Regions from separate parts of the Homo sapiens genome. Here region 1 is linked to region 2. The links come from fine-mapping of genetic effects on gene expression. A gene starts in region 2. The other region holds a variant in brackets. All regions are shown on one strand. Distances are from middle to middle.

Evidence for each region.
Region 1: its variant is fine-mapped to the expression of HOXB13 in sun-exposed skin (GTEx, PIP 0.98).

Annotation. Positions count from the first base shown.
Region 1 is chr17:48,698,979-48,707,747 of GRCh38, forward strand. It overlaps LINC02086 (long intergenic non-protein coding RNA 2086), which reads left to right. Exons shown (of 8, transcript NR_189645.1): 6 at 1,634-1,718; 7 at 5,023-6,372; 8 at 7,081-8,368. Among named protein-coding and RNA genes, the nearest start is that of PRAC1, 19 kb to the right of the region's middle. The variant G/A (reference allele first, on the strand shown) is at 5,295.
Region 2 is chr17:48,723,939-48,731,938 of GRCh38, forward strand. It overlaps HOXB13 (homeobox B13), which reads right to left and starts at 4,812. Exons shown (of 2, transcript NM_006361.6): 1 at 4,055-4,812; 2 at 825-3,105. The coding sequence starts at 4,655. The coding sequence ends at 2,852. It overlaps PRAC2 (PRAC2 small nuclear protein), which reads left to right. Exons shown (of 2, transcript NM_001282275.2): 2 at 390-820. The coding sequence starts at 473. The coding sequence ends at 745. It overlaps MIR3185 (microRNA 3185), which reads right to left and starts at 537; the gene lies at 470-537.

The DNA of each region.
Region 1 (8,769 bases), 25 kb before region 2:
ACACTCCAGCCTGGGCAACAGACTGAGACCCTGCCTCAAAAAGAAAAAAAAAGAAATATTACTTCTCTTTACATCCCTTTGCCAGCCTCCATTTATAATATGATTGCCTTAAATATTTCCTCTGCATATTTTTAGAACCACAACAGACTGTATTGTAATTTTTGCTTCAACTATCAAAAATAATTTAGAAAACTCAAGAAGGGGCCAGGTGCAGTGTCTCATGCCTGTAGTCCCAGCACTTTGGGAGGCCAGGGTGGGTGGATCACGAGGTCAGGAGATCGAGACCATCCTGGCCAACATGGTGAAACCCCGTCTCTACTAAAATACAAAAACAGCTGGGCATGGTGGCGCACGCCTGTGGTCCCAGCTACCTGGGAGGCTGAGGCAGGAGAATAACTTGAACCCGGGAGGCAGAGTTGCAGTGAGCCAAGATCACACCACTGCACTCCAGCCTGGCTAGAGAGTGAGACTCTGTCTCAAAAAAAAAAAAAAGAAGAAAAGAAAAGAAAAAGAAAGAAAAGAAAGAAAGAAAACTCAAGAAGAAAAGGAGGCCAGATGAGGTGGCTCATGCCTGTAATCCCTGCACTTTGGGAGGCCAAGGCAGGCAGACCACTTGAGATCAGGAGTTGAAGACTAGCCTGGCCAACATGGCAAAATCCCGTCTCTACTAAAAATACAAAAAAATTAGCCAGGCACGGTGGTGGGCGCCTATAGTCCCAGCTACTCAGGAGACTGGGGCACGAGGATCGTTTGAACTTGGGAGGTAGAGGTTGCAGTGAGCCAAGATCCTGCCACTGCAGTCCAGCCTGGGTGATAGAACAAGACTCAGTCTAAAAAAAAGAAAAGAAAAAGAAGAAAAGGAGGCTGGGCATGGTGGCTCACACCTGTAATCCCAGCACTTTGGGAGGCCGAGGCGGGCAGATCACGAGGTCAGGAGATCGAGACCATCCTGCCTAACATGGTGAAACCCCATCTCTACTAAAAATACAAAAATTAGCCAGGTGTGGTGGTGGGCACCTGTAATCCCAGCTACTCAGGAGACTGAGGCATGAGAATAGCTTGAACCTGGGAGATGGAGGTTGCAGTGATCCAAGATTGTGCCACTGCCCTCTAGTCTGGGTGGCAGAGTGAGACCCTGTATTGAGGAGGAGGAGGAGGAAGAAGAGAAGGAGGAGGAAGGGGGAGGAGGAGGAGGAGGCGGAAGGGGAAAGGAAGGGATGGGGAAGAAGAAGAAGAAAAGTGTTTTTGAACAATGAGAATACGTGGATGGGGAGGGGCAATCACACACCAGGGTCTGTTGTGGGGTGGGGGGCTGGGGGAGGGATAGCATTAGGAGAAATACTTAATGTAGATGACGGGTTGATGGGTGCAGCAAATCACCATGGCATGTATATACCTATGTAACAAACCTGCACATTCTGCACATGTACCCCAAAACTTAAAGTATAATAAAAAAAAAGAAGAAGAAAAGTGTTTTATATTTAACCATGTCTTTGCTCACTGTGTTCTTTCTCCCTTCCTGATGTTTGTTTTCTTTCTTTTTAGAGAAATTTATTGTGCTTTACCCTTTATTCCTGAAATATAATTTCACAGGCAATAGAATTCTGGGTTGACTATTTTTTTTTTCTTTCAGCACTTGAAAATATTGGCTATTTCCTTCTGACCCCCATGGTTTCTTTTAAAAAATTTGCTGTTGTTTGAATTATTTTTCTCTACAGGTAAGGTTCATTTCCGTCTTGCTGCTTTCAAGAGTTTTCTTTGCCTTTACTTTTTTTAAAAAAATGTTTTAAATTTTATAGAAACAGGGTCTCACTGTTATCCAGACTGGTCTTGAACTCCTGGACTCAAATGATCCTCTTGCCTCAGCCTTCCAAATTACTGGGATTACAGACATGAGCCATCATGCCCGGCCTGCCTTTAATATTTAGAAATTTGGCTTTAATATATCTTGGTATTTCTTGAGTTTATCCTGTTTTGATGTGTTATCTTGTTCACTCAGCTTATTGAATCTGTAGGCTAATGGGGCTCTTTTTTGCCAAATTTGGGGAGTTTTAAGCCATTACTTTTTTCTATTTTTTTTTTTTCTTTTTGAGATGGTGCCTTGCTCTGCCACCCAGACTGGAGTGCGATGGCGCGATCTCGGCTCACTGCAACCCCTGCCTCCTGGATTCAAGCGATTCTCCAGCCTCAGCTTCCTGAACAACTGGGACTACAGGCACCTGCCACCACACCTGGCTAATTTTTGCATTTTTATTAGAGACGGGGTTTCACCATGTTGGCTAGGCTGGTCTCAAACTCCTGACCTCAAATGATCCACCCACCTCAGCCTCCCAAAGTGCTGGGATTATAGGCGTGAGCCACTGCGCTCCGCCAGCCATTACTTTTTGAGTACTTTTTTTAGCTGTGCCCTCTTTCTCATTTCTTCCAGGATTCTGATGACATGAATTTTAGATCTTTTCATCTAGTTCCACAGGTCCCTGTGGCTTTTTTCATTTTCTTCAAACTGTTTTCTCTCTGTTTCTCAGATTGGGTGATTTTTAATTATTCTATTTTCAGGTTCACTTGTTCTTTCCTCTGTCCCCTCCATTCTACTGTTTAGTCCATTTACTGAGGTTTTTTTACTTCGGTTATTATGTTTTTCAGGTTTAAACATTCCATTTAGCTCTTCTTTATATTTTCTGTTTCTTTACTAATACTTTCTATTTTTTTTGCTTTGTTTCAAATGTGTTCTTAATTATTTGTTGAAGCATCTCTCTGATGGCTGCTTTAAAATCTTTGTCAGATAATGTTAACATCTGGTATCTTTGTATTGTTGATTGTCTTTTTAAAATCAGTTTGAGATTTTTCTGATTCTTGGTAACATGAGTGATTTTCAGTTGATACCTAGATATCTCATATTATTTTATAGGCTCTGGATCTTATTTAAGTCTTCAGTCTTAGCTGGTTTTCTCTGAAACTGCTCCTACAGAGGAAGGGTGGGGGACTGTTACTTCTTTATTGCCAAGTGGTGGTAGAAGTCCAGCTTCTCCACTTGGCCTCCATTGACACTTCAAGGAGTGGGTGTTTCTCATTACTGCTGGTCAGGGGTGGGCGTTCTGCCTCCCCACATGGTTTCTGCTGATATCATGGTGGGGATAGGCTTGTTACTACTACGTAATGGTGAAAGTCCTGCCTCTTTACTAGGTCTCTACTCTAGTGGAAAGGGAGAAGGACATCTCGTTGCTTCTAGGTGAAGAGTAGGTTTCCGATGTAGTCTCCACTGACACAGGTTGACACTGAGGAGGTGGGGGTGGGACCCAGGGACATGGGTACAGGCCTGCAAGGATAAAAGTCCCTGATCTCTACATGGCCTCCTCTGACACCACCCAGTAGAGGTGCCGGGGGGCCTTGTTACAGCTTCGCCTTCAAAAGCGTGAAAGTCTCAGCTTCTCCCTCAACCTTTGCTGGTGTGAGTGGGACCAGTTTTTTTCTGTAGCGTTTGATTGGCGCGGAACTGTTATTGTCTTCAAAGTTTTCTGTCTTGCTGGGCTGTCCCTTTCCTAGTCCTTTGTCTAGTGAGAGCAGGCTTTTTTTCAGGCTCCTCTTTCTCCTTCTTATTCTTCTCCTCCCGTCTGAACCCATTGGCATTTCTAGGTTGCTGCTCCAAGCCTTGGATATATGACACCGTAATAAAATCGAGAGAATGCACCACCATGTTTTCCTCAGCCCAGGTCCATAGCCTGTCTGCCATCTTTGTATCTTTCCTAGTCTTCTAATGTCTGTTTTATAGACAATGTCCAGAGTTCTTAGCTGTATTTAGGAGGAGGAATAGGGAGAAGTACAGCTCCTCTGTATTCCTGGAGTGGAATTCTCTGCCTCTCTGATTTTAAACAAGCCAAACTCACAAGAGGGCAAGCAGAAAGCAATTTCATTCTTTCTCACGACTATCCCTTTCAATCGGGCCTGTGGCTTCATTCTTCTAGATGAAATTTCAGGCAGATTCATAGCCTTTTCAATCCCTTTCAGTTATAAATATGTGCATGTGTGTTTGTTCGTATTAACATCAATCCTCTGAACTCTTGTCCAATCTAATCTTTTGCCCTCCCAAACTTGGACTTATCTCAGGGCCTATCTATATCTATGGTAGAAAGAGGGGCTCTTGGGGGTCTTGGTTAGCTTCTTTGCTATTTCCCCTCCTTACTCTTTTCTTCTCCCCTGTCTCCCTTTTTCTTTTTTATTTATTTTTAGAGCTAGAGTCTCGCTACATTGCCCAGGCTAGACTCAACTCCTGGGCTCAAGCGATCCTCTTGCCTCAGCTTCATGAGTAGCTGGGACTACTGCAGGCAGCTCCCCTTTATTTTCTGTATTGCATCTGGCTCCGCTAGTGTTGAAGTGAGAGAGATCAAGGAGAAATACAGGGCAAGAAAAGATCCTGTGTCTGTTATAGTTTTAATCAGGTGTTGGAGCTCTCCAGATGTAGCCAAAGGCCAACTCTTTTCTATGGGGCCCATTTGTGGATTTTTCAGTTCCTCCCATTTCTGGTTATTATTTGGAATCAGAATACCAATAATTGAAAAGAAATAGCATTTCAAGCAAGGGAATATCTGTTCTGGCTTGGAAAAAATCTATTTCATACACATTTTCATTTTTAGAAAGAATATTGTTGTTTAGAAGGAGTATTTAAAAGTTTATATTTAGAATGCTGTCGAAAGTTCCAAATTATTTGTTAAATATTTAGAAGATTTTATAGAAAAGGAGCATTTCAAATAAAACTCAAGTATTAAAGAAGAATATCAATTAGGCAATAATACCAATTAAGCATAAAAAAAGAGAATACCAGTTAGGCAACCCACTCTCCTGTTGGGCTGTGAACTGGCCATGCCCCTTTTTGCCTACATTTTTTGCTCATGCCATTCACTGGCTGAAATGCCTTCCCCTTCCTCTAGCCAAATCCTGCTTTTCCTTTGAGGCCCAAGTAGCACCTCCTCATGAAAGCCTCCCATGACTACCCCAACTCACTTCTCTTTTTCCTCTCGCATTTAGGTATTGACTGCTGCCTCATGAAGGCTGGTCCTGTCTCTATAGTGAATATTGTGCACCTCAGGGTAGAATGGAGAGCAGAAGACTTCAAATCAGGCAGTCTGGGTTCAGACCCCAATTCTAGTGCTAAATAGCTACGTGACTTTAGGCCGATTGTGTGTGACTTCCCTGAGCCCCAGTCTCTTTGCCTGCAAAATGAGAAAAATTATAACAATGTCATCGGTTGTTCTGAGGATTCTGAGAGGAATTAGTAGGAGAGAGAACTAAGAAGCTGC[G/A]GGCCTCTACAGAGCCATTCAACTGGCATTTCGGAAGATGTTGCCCATCAGAGTCAGACCTTCTTAGCATCTTCCGGCTGGGCCCAAACTTCCCAAGACCATTTGGACAAGGTCATCTCTATCCCACCATGGCCTCCTCCCAGAGGAGGAGAAGAATCATGCTGTTACAGCAGAACCGAAGATTTGGGCAAGGGAGCTAATGATTATGTTCTGCGTCAGGTCAGAGATGGGCTGGGAAAGCCACTCCAAAGCCAAGACAAGCAGTTTCCTGGAAAAAGAAGGCTGCGCGGAGCCCAGAGTGGCCTGGATCCTGCCTCATTTCCTGGACCAGCTCCTTAGGTGGTTACTGGATTGCCAATAAAGCAGAGCTTATTAAAGTCAACGAGCTCAGGCTTCATCGCCGCCATGGTATCCAAGCACCAGTCTGTCTGGGATTTCATTTGCCAGATGGACAAAGGAGAGGTTGTTCCAATACATATCCTGAGTGGTGGGGGTGGGGAGAGAAGGGGAAGAATGCTCTCTAGAGAATTCTCTTTGTCCTCTGAAGTAAATAGAGATCATGTCTTCCCCAGCCACACTCAGTGATCTGAATCTCTTGGACTGTGGATTTTTCCTTTACCTGCTGTGAAGCCTTGAAAAGTATGAATTAGCTTGATAATGATCCTCTAAAGATGTTCAAGAGTTAAAGACGTGTTTAAGTTCTTCAGGCAATCCAATATGACTACGGGTTTCCAAAAATTTGAAGGAAACTGAAAATCATAGTTCCCAAACCAGATATTTTCCGGTGTCCAGATGTTCACTGGCATGCAAACCAAATGTCTGGATTATGAGCTCCTTTTTTCATTTCTTTTTATCAGCTTACATCCAGATGTTGGATCCAACTGGTCAGAGGCCTGGGGCAGAGACAGAAATCAAATCTAGGGTGTTCATCTAGAGTCTCCTGCTCCTCCATTCCTGCTTCCTCCTCACGCTGCCCCCACATCCTCCCCAACTCACCTTCATGCTACATCTCGGCAAATACAGCTCATATCCAGGCACGGTGCAGCCCTTGACAGCTGGGTCCGCAAAGGCAGATCGGGTATATCTTTAAAGAAAAGTTATCTTAACCATTGAGAAGCCTTCCTTCCTCAGAGGAGAGCACCTCCCCAGCAGACCTCCGAGGAGACCAAGGGCAGGACAGGAAGGGTGAAAGGAAGTTTCAGGACTGCAGGAAATAAGAGCTTGGAGGTCAAGGGAGAGATCAGATAAAACATGAATCTGATCAGCATCCTAGTGGTCTAGAGTGGAGACAATCTGCGGAGTCAACCTCAGTAAGGACACACATAGAGAAGAACCAAAGCCTCTAAAGACGAAGCTGAGAAGTGTACGGTCGTAGAAGACTCGTGTCTGTTATTCTTAAAAGCTCAAGGAGGTATAAACTGCATAAGATTTAAATGGAGGAACACACGATCTTACTTGCTTTCAGAGGATTTTGGGGTCCCCATTCTCCCATTAGCAGCCAGGCAACTCTCTCTGTCCTCTCCAAAGGGAGGAGTGGAAAGGCTTCAAAATCCCTAGGAAATAAATGTCCCCTCCACCCAAAGTCCAGTGTGTAGCCTGAGGACAGGACTTTCACTGAGAGAAATATATAAAAGAAGGGGATAGAAGCCAGGCACCCAGGTGGTGGGTAACAGAAGGGAACTTTCTAGCTGGTTTTATTTAGGGAGGGCATCCTGGGCAAAAGTCAGAATGCAACTTTTTTTTTAAACCCCTTTTAACAAGATGCTGTTGAATTCCTCTTTTGCAGATGTTCTGCCAATTGAATGGAAACTGTCCATAGTGGGGAGCAGAGAGCCTCATCTTTTCTGGAACTGAACATCCATCCTTAAGGCCAGATTTCTCCCATCACCAACTTTAACTCCTGCCCTAGCCCTCTCTCTTCCTTTTCAAAACCCTCTCCACCCAGGAAGGGAGATTCTGGAGCCAAGACTGTACCAGCCACACCTCCCCAGAGTTGTTAAGGAAGGAACTCGAAGCCAGGGGTGGTCTTCTGGCAAGCACCCCCACTACCAGTAGCAGGACAGATGTGTTTCTAATGGACTACACTATCCCCGGAGGTCACATGATTCAGGCTGCCAAGGGTACCTGCCCTTGGGAAATCAACTCCCGAAGATAAATTGGGATTGGGTCCTGAGAAGATCCATGGAAGCCCAGAGGACCCTGCCTCTCTCTGTTGCTTCATGCTGTAGAGGCAGTACTGGGGAGGGCCTGCCCCACATCCGGCAGGGCAGCTGGAACCATGTGTTTGATGACACTCTGCTCCCTCAATGTGGAGCCTCATCCTCATCTCACAGTCTAGCAGGCCTCTGGTGGGTTAGGCTTGTCTCACCCAGTGTGTGAGTTTTTTTGGAAGTGACCTGATTTTGGAGTTTCCCTCCAAGCCTTTCTCAGGTACATGCTTTCTCTTTTATTCTGTCTTCTTTTTTTGATCTTCTTAAATCTGATTTTCTCCTTTTTCCCTCTCTTGTCTCCATCTTTTTTCCAGTCTCTCGCTTCTCTTTATTTCTCCCCATATTTCACTCTGTTCTCTCACCCCAACCTTTCCCTTCTGTTTCTCTCCCTCCCTCTCTTCCCACCCCCTGCCTGGCCTTCCATATATCAAGCAGAGTTTTATCACCTTATGCAGGGGCAGCCCTGCCACCTGCCATAAAGTTGATAGGCTAATGACATTTTGTGGATATTGCCATGTCACAAGTCCAGGACAGCATCAAAAATAGCCCTGATGTCTAAACCACTTCAGCTATCTTTTTTATTTTTAAAATAAATACATTCACATGCTTTTAAGAAACTATAAAAATATATAAAGTAAAAAGATCTTTCTCTCACACTGTCTCCACCTCTCCTGGTCTCACCGTTGTGCTTAGGGGAAACCATTGTGATTAGTTTCTCCTGTGTCCTTCCAGAGTGTCTTTATGCAAATGAAAATTATTGTGATAATATATTCCTATTTTCCCCCTTACTACACAAAAGATAGACTACCATAATCCCATTCTGCACTTTTTTTTCACTTGATAATAAAAACATGATTTTATTAATGGGTGTTTATGGAGTGATTACCATGTGCTATGTGCCTGCTGGGCACTGCAGAACATACACTGGTGAACAAGACACAATCACAATCCCCGTATTCAAGGATCTGAAGACCGTCTAGTGACAAAGCCCAACAGGCTCATCTACATTCAGCCATGCGATAGAGGGCTGAATGTCTTTAAATAAGTAAAGTCGGCCAGGCATGGTGGCTCCTCCCTGTAATCCCAGCACTTTGGGAGGCCGAAGCAGGAGGATCACTTGTGTCCAGGAGATCGAGACCAGCCTGGGCGACACAGTGAGACCCTGTCTCTACAAAAAATAAAAAATTAGCTGGGCATGGTGTGGTGGTGTGTGCCTGTAGTTCCAGCTACATGGGAGGCTGAGGTAGGAGGTTTGCTTGAGCCCA
Region 2 (8,000 bases):
TGAGGGAGGGGAACGGTCTGGAGGGCAGCTCAGGGTACAATTGCGCCTTGTTAGTGAAAAGGCGCCCTGCTTATTTTCCGGAGTATATGTGTGTGCCTCTGCGTTTATTCGTCTGTGAGCTCATTGTCTGGATTCACCTATTGTGACATTGTGTTCACACGTTTGTCCGAATGGTAAGCAAAACATTTCCTCCTGTAGCTTAACATAGCCCTTATGTAAAAATAAATATCTGCAGGCGAATATAGGTTTGTAGATTTTGTTGTGATTTAAACACAAATAAGTGAGAGATTTCAATGTGGTCGTCCAGGGATAGGTGGGAGACTAAAATTGGGAAGGGATTCCCAATGAAAGCGTTTAATACAAAACGAAATTAAATATTTTTTGCACAGGTTCCATACAAGTAAATCCGAAAAAAAGTGTGTGTGGGGGGGTCCACACCACTAATTATTATGGCGAGGAAGATAAAGAAGACATGGACAGAAGGCGGATGGCTCTGCGGCCTGGCTCCCGCAGACCGACCGCCTTCTTCTTCCATTCGAGATGGCTCGTACCGAACCTCCTTGCCTTCTTCCTGGGTCTCTCGGGGGCTGGACCAATACATCTGCCGATGCCCTGGCCGAATGGCAGGCGACATCGGGTCCTGGACCCCCACACGCAGCTCAGTACCCACGAGGCCCCAGGCCGCTGGAAGCCTGTAGCTCCGCGGACGATGAAAGCCTGCCCGCAGGTTCTCCTGGAGTGGTGAGCCTCTGTCGGAAGGGGGCGCCCACGTCTTTTTAATGGTCCTAACACACCAGTGGAATAAATCTCTAAGATTCCACATCTTTTGTTTGCTCTGAATTTATTGCGAGTGAAAAACAGAGAAAATCCTCAAGTTTAAGTTTCTGATAGCAGAGTGTGGGAGTTAGAGCATGGGGAGTCCAGAGGTTCCAGACCCCCAAAGGTCTCTACCAGGGCCATCTCCGTTAGTGGCGGTGGCAGCCCCTCTTGTGGCCTTTTTCCTCTCTCCAAGGGGTCACCCCGCACCATGCCGCTCCCCCTCATCTATCTTGCCCCCTCCCCACAGGCCCATCTGCGCTGAACTCTCGCCAGTTCCGAAGTCGGCGAGGGAGGGGGTTTACTTGCCCGATCGTTGGTGGGTTTGAGCTTATAGAGGCAGAGGAGTAAGAACCTGCGATATTGAAAGCTACCCACATGGGGCTTCCTTGAAGGAGGACGTGGAAGGCAGAAAGTGACCTGCTCTGAGCGGCGCATGTAACCGAGGACCTTAAGCTGGACCACGGGGCTTGGACGATTTTTTAAATCAGGAAATCGACCTCATCTTCCTCCTCCTCGTCCTCTTCCCCTGAACCCCCAGTCCGCATGCACTCACACTCTTTGGCCTTTTCCCTCAGTCCCGGGCTCCTCTTTGGTAAATAGATTTGTAGGTGTCTAAGTCACGTCCCACCCTCACTCCTTCCCAGGAGAGGAGACAGGGCTAGGATCCCACCCGACCGCGGGCCATAAACACTTGGCTGCGGCGGCCGCCGCGGGGTTTCTAGGAGAGCTGGCTCCGGGAGGGAAATGTCCTCGAGGTAGTGGCGGCCGCGGCCCACCACCAACTGCTCGCCACCGACCCCACTACTCGCCACCGACCCGCTGCTCGGAGCTTCGGTTCTGCGGGTTGTCCAGACTTCAGGCCTGTGCGCTCAATCGTGGAGAATGCGCCGGCAGGCCCCCCACCCCCAGCCTAAGGTGCAGGAAGGACCAGCACGAACCCGCTGGCTTTGCTGCGCGGCCAGGAGATGAGTCCCACCGGGCACTGAGCCCAGGTACAGGACATCAGAGAATGAACACAGAGGCAGAGGCCCTCATGTCCCTCTCAGAGTCCCGGCTCTGCAAAGAGCCCGTCTGTCTCCAGCTTCCAGAATTCCGCACTGTGAATCTGTCTACGTGGACTGGGAAAACAGGGTTGGCACCACTCTGCCACTCCGTTTGTGCCTGGGAAGGGCTAAGTATGCAAGGCTACAAACATCTACTTCACTGGGATCCCAAATGCTCAACAAACCATGACCTGCTTTGGTCAGAACCACCAGAAATATTAAGGGAAGACTCAGAGAGTTTGGGGGAGGAAATTAATGGTGAATTACCCAGGCACTTTCTCAAATCTCTTTTTCTCTGGAAGGAAGGACTGACTAGGGGCAGCCTGCTGGCTTCATTTTCACACGACAGAAAAATCATCGTATTAAGGATGGGTGCTTCCAAGACCAGTGGGTACACCCTATGGGGTGGACAAGGAGGGAGGAAGAGACAGCCTCTACAATTGTCCACCTACCCAGCTGTCAGCTGAGAAAAATGCTAAACGGACATCACAGCCACACAACGAATCTGCCCGTTCCCCTCTCCTCAGTCTTCCTGCTGTTACCAGGGTGAGAGGTGTAATGGAAGGGGGTCTGAGAGAAAGCTTCCCTGCAAAGGGATCGCCTTCCAAATTTATTCATAATTAGCTCAATTCATGAAAGCGGTTTCTAAAGTGCTCTACAGAGCTCTAGATAGAAAATATGAGGCTAACGATCATGGCAGCTAGTACTGGTTATCGTGATTATTGCCACTGTCAGGATGAATGATTATGACTGGGCCAGGTTCTTTGGGAACCCTGGTGGAGTGGGCTGTCACATGGGGTTCCGTCTCCCTGCACATACTGGGTACCCAGGCCGCTCCTGAGGAACAGTCCAGCAGCCAGTGGCCTGGGAAGGGTGTTGTCTCTAGGGGCCTCTCAGCAGAGTCCTTGGCCCCAGCCTGGGCTTGGCAGGTTCCTGGTCTCCCCAGGACACCCCCACTTTCGCTCCTCCCACCCAGGCAAGGAGATCTCTTAAGGGGTAGCGCTGTTCTTCACCTTGGCGAGAACCTTCTTCTCTTTGACCCGGCGGTTCTGAAACCAGATGGTAATCTGGCGCTCCGAGAGGCTGGTGGCTGCCGAGATCTTGCGCCTCTTGTCCTTGGTGATGAACTTGTTAGCCGCATACTCCCGCTCCAGCTCCCGCAACTGCCCCTTGCTGTACGGAATGCGTTTCTTGCGGCCGCGACGAAAGGCGCAGGCGTCAGGAGGGTGCTGCCCGCTGGAGTCTGCGCGGCGTGAAAGGGAGGGAGGAAAAGGCATGGTCAGATACCCACCCATGCAGACCCAGGCCTTGCAAGCCCCAAGCTAAGTCATCTCACAGGTGCACACAGGTCACCCTACAGGCGCACGTGCAATCCTGTTCCTCCAAAGCATACCAGGACAGCACCCTGGCTTCCGGCTTGTTCTCTCACCACCGCTCAGCCTTGGCTCCTGAAGGCCACCCTCACCCATCACTGCTCTCACACCCGCGAATCTGCAAACATACCCACACACCACACACAGTCAGGCCTTTGCCCACCATCACATACGTCCAGTCTTCATGCATTTCCAGACTCTTGGCCACTCTTTTAGATTCTACAGGCAAATTCTGGAAACACGTTTCTGCCCCCACTCCCAATACATGCGCATACACACACACACACACACATTAACCCATCCCAGTGCACACACATATGTCACGGCTGCAGGAAACCTAAATTTTTCTTTGGAAATTGGAAAACTCATCTAATAGAAAGTGAGAGGTTGTATTCTCTACAGTACATCCAATACCTTTTTACCCATCTCCCACACCCACTCCCCACGCACCGAATTGAGAGTTATTTAGCTTTTGTGTAGAATTAGTTTGGAATTGTGCTGGGTAGGGACACCCTGATCCCCACTCAACAGCAAAGAGATCTAAACCTCTCAGACATGTTGAAAGGCTGGTCCCAGGGCCTCCTGGAGAAGTGAGGTGGCCTTCAGGCTTCAGATAGCACCCAGCTCAGGCCCCTCACACTGACCTCCATCCAGGCCCTCCAGCTACTCAGACCTCCTTCAGAGTCCTAATAACCAAGGGAGGAGCACCAAGCTCATCCTCACCAGCTCCAAGTCTCCCTCCTCCTCCTCCCAGGGAAATGCCATTGGGACCCACAACCCCAGGCTCAGAGACAAGGGGACCCAGGGTAATAGAGGTACCTGCAAATGCTGCCTTCCAAAAGGGACCTGGTGGGTTCTGTTCTCCCTGGCAACACATCTGGCTGTTCCAGCCACCAGCGAGAGCCCAAGACTGGTAACTGTCCACAGGCAACAGGGAGTCATGTCGCGGTTCTCCAGGAGCACCCAGAGTCTGCACCACAGACACGTCCAGGTAACTGGCCATAGGCTGGTAGGTTCCCGGATATCCCGGATAGAAGGCAAACTCAGTGGGGCGGCTGGGGTACTCTTCCCCGGCCGTGGGAGTCTCCGCGGGGTACGCGGCCAGGGTGGCTGCCTGGGCACAGGGTTTCAGCGAGCTCCGGGACACTCGGCAGGAGTAGTACCCGCCTCCAAAGTAACCATAAGGCACGGGAGCTGGGGACGTCCCCTGGGGCACCCCAGGGCATGGGTGGCATTGCTTTGGCGGCTCCGCCGAGCCTGGCAGATCCAAGGGGGCATAGTTGACAGCAGGCATCAGCGTAGGCGCCGCTGGGTGGCTGGTCAGAGGGGAGTGGGCGACCAGATTCCGCCCCCCTCCCGCTCCCAGCAAGCCTTCGATATCCTTGGCTCCATCCAAGGTGGCATAATTGCCGGGCTCCATGGAGCCGAGGGTCGGCTCATGAGGTGCGGGGGCGGGGAATCTAGGGGGCACCCAGCTCGCTCTCCCCACCCAGGCCGGGGGAATCCAAAGCGTTTTAAATCGCTCCCAGCTCGCAAGTCGCCTGCATTCGCTCAGCACGGCCGTCTTGACGCAAGAGACGCAGGGGCCCGGGCACGCGCGCTGATTGGCTGCGGCCTGGGGGAGAGAAGCTAATAAAATCCTAAAGGCAGAAACTGCGAAAATACTTTACCCCAGCTTATTCTCTCTCTCTCTCTCTCTCTTTCTCTCTCTCTCTCTCTCTCTCTCTCTCTCTGTCTCTGTCTCTCTCTCTCGCTCTCTCGCTCTTTCTCTCCTCTCTCTCTTCTCCCTCTCTCTCTTCTTTTCCCTCTCCACTCCTCTCTCTCTCATTCCACTTAAAAACAACAAGAGAGAAAAGGAAGGAGGTGTCCTTTCGCTGCTTTCCAGTTTGCAGAGTCTCATTTACACGTCCGGGGGGAGGGGAGGCGTGGTGGGCGGAGGAAGAGGGGACGAGGAGCCGGGCCCCACCTCCTTCTCCTCCTCTCCCTCCCTAGCTTTCTGTCTCCTGCGCTTTGACAGGTTTAACGAGAGAATAAAAAGCTCTCTCTATAAAGTGTCCATCTCCTGGGGGGGAAGGGGAGTCGGGGGTGGGGCTGGGAGGCCGCTCCCGGCCTCAGAGGAGAACCCGGGAATGCGCCTGTGTAAGAGGAGGCTGGGAAATGGGGGTTAATAGGTATTTCTGGCAGCCCCTGGCTTTGGGTCCTGGGTACTAGCACCCCAGTTCATTCCCGGTACCCTTCCTGTCCCAGATGTCCTGGAATGAGCTGCTCCGGGCCCCAGGGAGGTGCCCTGGACGCCCCTTACCCAGGGACTCGCTACTGCCCAGAATGCTCTGGAGGCCCTGATTCGGGTGAGGCTGAGGGAAGAGGCGGGAGACACGAACGTAGACGTAGAAGACATGCGATCTGGATGGAACCCAGGACACTCCACTTCCGGACCTGAAGGGGAAATGGAGCCTCTAGAGTGGCCTGTGGAAGGGTCTGGATTTCCCTTTAAGTAAAGACATACGGAGGGACGGAGACCCACAGGACTTGAGGGAGGGACGGGGAGAGGGAGAGATGAGACTCAGGGACAGCAACACAAAGAGGGAAAGAGAGAAGCTGACAGAGCGGATGGGACAAAATCTTGTAAAATCCTGAAGTGTCAGTCAGAAAAGAGAAAGAAGAGAGGCACTTTCCCCCTTTTTTGGGATCTAAAGAAGTCTGAGGAAGCCAAGCCTGGCTGACTGCCAGAAACCAGCTGCGGGAGTTCTGGACCCCAAGAATACAGACGCCTGTGTGGAGATGCCAGTCTCCCTGCCCTGCAGTCCTCTCCCTATGGTCTGCAAGGGGCCCAGGAAACTGTCCCTGATACTGGCATACTCCCACACAAGCTGAGTACCCAGAAAGCCCAAGACCCCTATCTGCCTCCTGCAAGCTTTAAACTTCCTTACAAGGAAAAGGGAATGGAAGGGGAAACCCCAGCCACTGGCAGAATTGCTTGAGGCCCCTCTGTTGGGGCCTAATGTGCAGTGCAATTCAGAAGAATCAAACGGTTTGTTTCACAAATCTGTCTTTAGAGGTTTTCCGCTTCCTTTACTACCCCTCCCAAATCAAATCCTTCTGTCTGCTTTTTCTAGAACTCCCAGTTTTTCTGGAGAAGACAGGAATGTTTCCATTCTACACGAGGGTCTTGACAATTATATGGAATGGCTTACCCTAAACTCTGGGCAGACTCAATCATAGCCTCTCACCAACCTGACCTTGAACTTGAGCCACTTTGTGGGAAAGGGCCCACAGGCAGTAGTGTACATCACTCCTAATGAGCATTGCTATAATTGAAGACACCAAGCACGAAATCTTCACTAGATCGCATTTGAAAACAATATGGAAGAAAAGGGAGGAGATGTCTCTTCAGTGCTTTCCAGTTTCTCACCAGAGTTTCTTGCTTGTCTAATTATGAACTGCAGAAATATCCAGACTTTTACCTAAAGACTAAGAATTTTTCACCAATTTTTACTTGGTAGATGATAGATATGTAGGGCATGTCCACAGTTTTAGTTTCCACTAGGCAAACACCCACACATGCACATTTATTCATCCTTGTACAGTAGAGGCATTAATAGATCCCTAAATTTAAAAAATAATAATAGTCATAGTCATGCCCTATGACCCAGCAATTCCATTCCTGGGCATAAACCCAACAGAAATGAACCTTTATATCCATCAAAAGTCATGTACTAGTAGGTCCACAGCAGCTTTATCTGTAGTTGCTCAAAGCCACCCATGGCAGCGCACGCCTGTAATCCTAGCTACTAATCCTAGTGGAGGTGGGAAGATCGCTTGAGCCCCGGTGTTCAAGACTAGCCTGGGGCCAGGCACAGTGGCTCAGGTCTGTAATCCCAGCACTTTGGGAGGCCAAGGCAGGTGGATCACTTGAGGTCAGGAGTTCGAGACCAGACTGGCTAACATGGTGAAACTCTCTCTATACTAAAACTACAAAAAAAAAAAAAAAAAAAGCCAATTGTGGTGGTGGACACCTATAACCCCAGCTACTCAGGAGGCTGAGGCAGGAGAATCGCTTGAATTTGGAAGGCAGAGTTTGCAGTGAGCCGAGATCGTGCCACTGCACTCCAGCCTGGGTGACAGAGCAAGACTCCATCTCAAAAAAAAAAAAAAAAAAAAAAAAAAAAAAAAAAACCAGCCTGGGCAACAGGGGTAATAGGGATAATAGGGATACCCCATCTCATAATGAAATCAAAATATAGTAGCTCAAAACTAGAAACAACCCAAAAGTCTATCAGCAGTAGCATGAATAAAGAAAGCACAGTATAATTATACAATGAAGTACTACACAGCCATTTGAAAAAGAATAAACCACTACTACACACAACATTGATGAATCACAGATATGTGGATGAAAGAAGCCAGACACAAAAGAGTAACTTTTGTATGATTCAGTTTCTACATTTCTATGCAGTTCAATGACAAGCAAAATTATGGTATAGTGATAGAGGTCAGAATAGAGATTGGCATGGGGAGAGGTCTCCTGACTGGAAAAGGACATAAAGAAGCCTTCTGGGGTGCTGGAAATAGTCTCCATCTCAATCTGTCTGCTAGTTACAAGACTTTGTTCACTGTGAAAATTCATCAAGCTATACACTTGGTATTTCTGCACTTTATTGCATATCAGCTATATCTCAAATGTTAAGGAAAATAATTAAAAACAAAAATTTTTTTAATTCATTGCAACACTTCCTGAAACTGTGCTTTTGGATGTATAGCATTC